Regions from separate parts of the Homo sapiens genome. Here region 1 is reported to be linked to region 2. The links are microRNA targets in miRTarBase. Many come from high-throughput screens and were not tested one by one. Region 2 holds a microRNA gene; the other region holds the end of a gene's coding sequence.

Evidence for each region. Region 2 holds the annotated microRNA hsa-miR-6796-3p (GAAGCUCUCCCCUCCCCGCAG, at 2,072-2,092, opposite strand). A microRNA usually pairs through its seed, bases 2 to 8, with sites in the 3' UTR of a target mRNA and lowers its output. Matches are read on the target gene's strand: a 7mer-m8 pairs with bases 2 to 8, a 7mer-A1 pairs with bases 2 to 7 and ends in A, and an 8mer does both.
Region 1: miRTarBase lists ITCH as a target of hsa-miR-6796-3p. The part of its 3' UTR that is shown has no 7-base or 8-base seed match.

Annotation. Positions count from the first base shown.
Region 1 is chr20:34,507,231-34,510,339 of GRCh38, forward strand. It overlaps ITCH (itchy E3 ubiquitin protein ligase), which reads left to right. Exons shown (of 25, transcript NM_031483.7): 25 at 465-3,109. The coding sequence ends at 564. Among named protein-coding and RNA genes, the nearest start is that of DYNLRB1, 7.6 kb to the right of the region's middle.
Region 2 is chr19:40,368,735-40,371,978 of GRCh38, reverse strand. MIR6796 (microRNA 6796) reads right to left here and starts at 2,133; the gene lies at 2,072-2,133. PLD3 (phospholipase D family member 3) reads right to left here. Exons shown (of 13, transcript NM_012268.4): 7 at 1,951-2,071; 8 at 1,742-1,869; 9 at 106-306. RefSeq lists an enhancer at 1-197.

The DNA of each region.
Region 1 (3,109 bases), not on the chromosome of region 2:
CCTCACATCCTTTTCAACTCTTGTTTTCTTCTGTTTTTTTTTTTTTTTTTTTTTTTTTTGGTTGTTGTTGTTGTTGTTTTGGTGTTTTAAATAATAGCCATCCCAACAGGTGTGAAGTGGTATCTCATTGTGGTTTTTATTTGCATGGTAAAGGATGTTGAGCATTTTTTTAATGTGCTTATTGGTCATTTGTATGTCTTTGGAGAAATCTCTATCCTTTGTTCATTTTTAAATATTGTTGAGTTTTAAGTTTTTTATATATTTTGGATACCAGTCCTTTATCAGATATATGATTTACAAATATTTTTTCCCATTTTTGGGTTATTTCACTTTCTTGATGGTATCCTTTGAAGCACAGTAGTATATTTTTGTGCTTCTATAGTAGTGTATAAAGTAGTATACTACACTACTCATTTGATTCTTTGCATATTTCCTTTTCTCAAACTAACAATTCTTGCTTTTAGTTTTAATCGCCTGGACCTGCCACCATACAAGAGCTATGAGCAACTGAAGGAAAAGCTGTTGTTTGCCATAGAAGAAACAGAAGGATTTGGACAAGAGTAACTTCTGAGAACTTGCACCATGAATGGGCAAGAACTTATTTGCAATGTTTGTCCTTCTCTGCCTGTTGCACATCTTGTAAAATTGGACAATGGCTCTTTAGAGAGTTATCTGAGTGTAAGTAAATTAATGTTCTCATTTAGATTTATCTCCCAGTGATTTCTACTCAGCGTTTCCAGAAATCAGGTCTGCAAATGACTAGTCAGAACCTTGCTTAACATGAGATTTTAACACAACAATGAAATTTGCCTTGTCTTATTCCACTAGTTTATTCCTTTAACAACAATATTTTATGTGTGTCAAAAGTCTCACTTGGGAGTAGTGTTTTTTTCTTTTAGACATTCTGCAGACATGCAGGGAAGTCCTTTGGTAACTGCAATATACAAGATTTTCCTATTAAGCCTCTTGGTAAGAGGCATTTGTTAAAAGTGCAAGCTTACTCCTGCTTCTGGGGATGTGAGCAAAATTCGGGCTTGTGTTCTCCCTCTCATTTTAGTCTGACTTGACTATTGTTTTTCCTTTCTGGCGCATGAATCCATACATCATTCCTGGAAGTGAGGCAAGACTCTTGCATCTCTACAAAGTAGTTTTGTCAATTTGAATTCAGGGAAAAGTTGGTCACAGCCTGCAAATGACTTCATTTGGAAGTCTGATTGTTTCAGTTGCCTGACAAATACTACACTTTACAAACAATGTTAACACTGTGATTCCTTCATTGTTTTAAGAAGTTAACCTAGGGCCGGGCATGGTGGCTCATACCTGTAATCCTAGCACTCTGGGAGGCCGAGGCAGGAGGATCCCTTTAGCCCAGGAGTTAAAGACCAGCCTGGGCAACATAGGGAGACCCTGTCTTTTTTTTGGGCAGCGTGGTGGGGGATAAATAAATAAAAGGAAAAAAAACTTAGCCTAGAATTAGAATTAATTTAATTGAATTCATCTAAAGATGTCTCTGGTGATTTTTATATGTTCCGCTATATAATTGATGCTTTATAGTTTTATCATAATCCAACAACTTCAGTTATATTTAATTATTGTTAAGGAGTTTAAGACTAGAAAGACTAGAGTGCTTTCTAGTCCAAATAGAGGTCAGTGAAACAGCTTTTGACATCAGATTTTCATTTGAGAGGGAGAGCTGTGGTACTGGCTAAAAAGAAAGGAAGATAACATCCAGTAACCACAGGAATATATTCTCTGTGAATTAAAAGTCTTCAAAGTTATCATTTCTCTGACATATGTTGGAGTAGTCATTTCCATTCTTTACATTGTCATGAACTGGATTGATAACCCTCATCTGCAATATTTTCACCCCTAAAATTTTTAACAGGGTTTCCTTTTTTTCTCACGACTATTTAAGTTTAGATTGCTCCATTATTAACTGATTAATGCACTTTGAAGTTCTCTGGAATTAATTATTTTAACTTGGCCTAGCTTCGACTGTCAAGGTGGCTGTTATAAATTTGACTTCATTGGCAGTGGATGAAGCCTAAGCCAGCTGAGTCTCTATCATAGCTGAACCCTGAGGACAGCCTCATAGCTCATGTATCAGGGACTTTTGCCACATTTCAGAGGCATAGCATGAACAAGTAATATTAAGCCAAGAATAAGCAGCAGAACCCTGTTCCATATGGAAAAAAGAAAAACAATTTTTTGTCCCTAATGTTCTTCCTTTTACATCCTGGAACAACAATAAAAACATTTTTTTAAACTTGTCTACTGTAAGATACTGCCATCATAAAGCAGAGACTTACATGAGTGAAAGGGTTGCCTCATCAAGCAGCTCAGTGTAAATGGGGAGGCTAGGCTCTCCCCAGCCCTATGGTTTTTTTATTTCATGTACCCCAGGAAATACTGTGTGGTTTCTAAAAGCCCTGGTTGTTAAAAGTAGGGACTCTGCCTTTTTGTTGGTAGGGAGAAAAAACGCTATTGCTTTGTCTTACAGAGCGAATGTCTGCCAACTACCCGTTCATTATATAAGTCTGAACTTGGTAATATATGGCTAATGAAGATTAAGCCCTCTATAAAGACTTCCTGTTGAGGTGAATTCTCATACTGAAATGTAGTTACCTACAATATTTACTAGAGATTTATGAAATTAAATTAAGAGATAATGTAAGAAAATACATTTTTTTGGTTCTATATAATGCTTCATGATTCATTTAGGGACCTAGAAATATTGTGTGAAAATATATAAATATCACCCAAAAGGCTTTCTGCCCTATATTTTTAAAATACAGAATAGTTATATTTGAAGTAGCCCTGGCCCTAGTTCTATAGGGCTTGGCTATTTAATATTTTTATGGAAGAAGTGTTTAGTTCTGGAAAAGGTAAATGCTTGTATATATTTTTGCAGCCTGGGATCTCCCTACTCCATTTTTTCCTTTAATTTAAGTGGCCACATGTATATGTCTTCCCTGCTGTGTTAGGAAAATGGGGGCTGGATATCCCAAGAATCAGAGGTTATATAAAAATACTGCAAATAGACCGCAGACATAAATATCTACCAAATGCTATCTTAAATTTTGGTCCAAACTGAACATATGGAAATAGA
Region 2 (3,244 bases):
TGGTCAGGATACGCCCTCCCTGTCATCACCAAACAGGGACAGATGGAGGCTGTGAGTGACGGCATGGGGCTGGGACATGACAGGCCCCACTTGCCCCAGACTCACCGCCAGGTAGGCCAGAGCAGGGGTTCCATTGAGGCAGATCTCCATTGGTGTCTCTTGGTTGTAGCGGGTGTCATAGAACCGGGGCCAAGTTGATGGGATGGAGCTGCCTGCCTGGCCCAGGAACCAGTAGGCCTCAAAGATCTTGGTCAGGTCTCGAGCCAGGCAGCTGCAGTTGTACATGACCACGCCCAGCTCCTTGACCTGTAGGAGGGCAGTGCTGAGCTCAGCGATAGCGGCCTAGTGCTCACAGATGACAGGGACACTCCCCAGTCTGGTCTCTGTCTTTCCCCCTGTCCCACAGTACCCCCTCCACCCCAGCTCCAATAGCTAAAGTCCTAGAATGATTATCAACTTAAGTTTTGATGAAAATCAGTTATTCCAAAGCTCCAGGTTTCCTGAACGTTTGCAATCTGCTGTTGCTTCTACCCTCCACTGAGCTAGCTTCTACTCATTCTTAGGTCTAGGCTGACATGTTGCCTCCTTCAGGAAGCCTCCCATGACTACCCAGCCTGCACCAGGCATTCCTCTGGGCTCTCACAGTCCCTTGGGATTCCCTCCTCATTCTTTCTGGTGACAAACTGGTCTTCCCATTGGGCTGGGAGGACAGGCACTAGGGATGTCTCAGTCACAGCTATATCTACAGCATCTCCCTGCATAATTGCTGAGATTAAAGGTTAGGGGAACTATCTGTTGAGGAAATGAATTCATGAGTTATTGTCCTGTCTTATCTTCACCTCATTGCCCAAGCTGTTTCCTGTTCCATCTTGCGCTAATTCCTCCCTATCCTTCAGGGATCAGATTAGTTATACCTCCTTTGGGAAACCCTCCAATGCCCCAGGTTGGGGTCTCTGAGCTTCCACAGCCCTCTGTTCCCTCCATCCTGGCCCTGACCCTCTGCCTGTGTCTCCCCAACCCCGGCCCTGACCCCTCTGGGCTGTCACTGTCAGGTGACAGGCCAGTCTGCATTGGGCTGGGAGTTCCATGAGGTCCATCTGTTACCACCATGTTCCCAACATTACCCAGGATAGGGCTGGACTTAGAGCAGGCACACAGAGATGTACAATGAAGATCAAATGGGTGCGCAGGTTCTTGAATGCCATGTAGAGGGGCTGGTAGCTGCAATTGGGGATCAGAGGGAGCCCCAGGCTTCCAGGAGCAGGGGGAGGGCAGTAGAGGGCTCCATTTAGGGATTCTTTGTTTTGTAACAGGGTCTCACTCTGTCACTCAGGCTGGAGTGCAGTGGCATGAATACAACCCACTGTAGCCTCAAACTCCTGGGCTCAAGTGATCCTCCCACCTCAGTCTCCCAAGGAGCTGGGACCAGAGGTGTGTGCCACCACACCGGGCTTATTTTTTTTTTTTTGGTAGAGATGGGGTCTCACTATGTTGCCCAGGCTGGTCTCCAACTCCTGGGCTCAAGCAATCCTCCCACCTTGGCCTCCCAAAGTGTTGAGATTATAGGTGTGAGCCACCGTGCATGGCTTGGATTAGGGAGGCCTGGTAGGAGGCAAGAAGGAAGCCATTACAGAGAATGGGTGGAGAGGACTCTGGATTGAGTGAGGGATGCAGTCGGAGGCTGGGTGCCCTGTGGGGCAGGGAGTGGCCTGGAAGGAAGGTAGACAGGGTGCAGACAGACCTGGGTCAGTGAACGCCAGTCCATGTTGGCACTGCCCAGGTAGAAGTGGGTCTGGTCCACCACCCAGAACTTGGTATGCAGGACGCCATGGGTCAGCTTCTGCATGTCCACCATGCGGACCTGGGCACCTGTGACCAGCAGGGGCAGAGATCAGGGGCCAGGCTGGGTACCCCCAGGCCCAGACCAGCCCCAGTTGGGCCCCAGCTCACCGCTCTGCAGCAGAGCCTGCAGGTCCGCCTGTGGCTGGGGCCCGCTGGGCTTGCTCACAGCGATGCGGACGTTCACGCCCTTTGGTGCCAGGGTCTGCAGCTGCCGGAGGACCTCCTCACCCTGCGGGGAGGGGAGAGCTTCTGAGGGGCTGGACCAGCCAGCTCTCCAACCCCACAAGGTAATGCCCGGTGGAGTTATTTTGAGACATGATTAGGAGTAAACAGACTTTACATTAGCCTGCATAGATTAAAGACTTTACAGATTAAAATATTAAAAGACTTCCTTATCTGTTTTAAACATCTTTATCTGCTTTAATAATTAGTTGCCCTGTGATCCCCCTCCAAGTCCTCCTGACCCCTCCTGCCCCTCCAGGGACTTTCTCAAAATTCAGCATCAAGGCAGGGCCTCCAGGCATCTCCCAGTATGGTGGGGGCGAGGCTCAGGCAGGGGGTCCTGGAAGGTATCGGGTGAGGCACGATGATGCCAACAACAGCAACAGTCAAGGATGCCCTGGAACCTACTGTGTGCCAGGCCCTGTTCTAGGCCTCTTCTCAGCGAACTCACTGAATTCTCACAACCCAGTGAGGCTGGTTTAATTATAATCCCCACAGAGAACTCAGTAGTGGAGTGGGATTTTGTTTTTGTTTTTTTGTTTGTTTGTTTGTTGAGACAGGGACTTGCTATGTTGCCCAGGCTGATCTTCAATCCCTGGGCTCAAGCATTCCGCCTGCCTCAGTCTCCCAAGTAGCTAGTACCTCAGGAGTGCACCACCACATCCAGCTATGGAGCAGGATTTGAACCCAGACCATCTGCCTCCTACATCTGTGTTTTAAACCACTTTAGAGGGAGCCAGCAGGGAGTGGGAGCTCATACGGTTTTTTAACATAAAAAAATTTTTTTTTAGAGACAGGGTTTCACTATGTTGCCCAGGCTAGAGTGCAGTGGCATGATCACAGCTCACTGCAGCCTCCAATTCCTAGGCTCAAGTCATTCTCCTGCTTCAGCCTCCCAAGTAGCTGGGACCACAGGTGTGTACCACTATGCCTGGCTTTGGTTTTTAACTTTTGTAATTATTATTATTACTTTTTCTTTTTCTTTTTTTTGAGACAGGGTCTTGCTATGTTGCCTGGGCTGGAGTGTAGTGGCATGATCACGGCTCGCTGCAGCCTCCAACTCCTGGGCTCAAGCCATCCTCCTCCTTCCATCTCCTGAGTATCTGAGACTGCAGGCATGCACCACAACACCCTCCTAATTTTTTTTTATTTTTAGTAGAGATGGTTGAGGGGAGGTGGG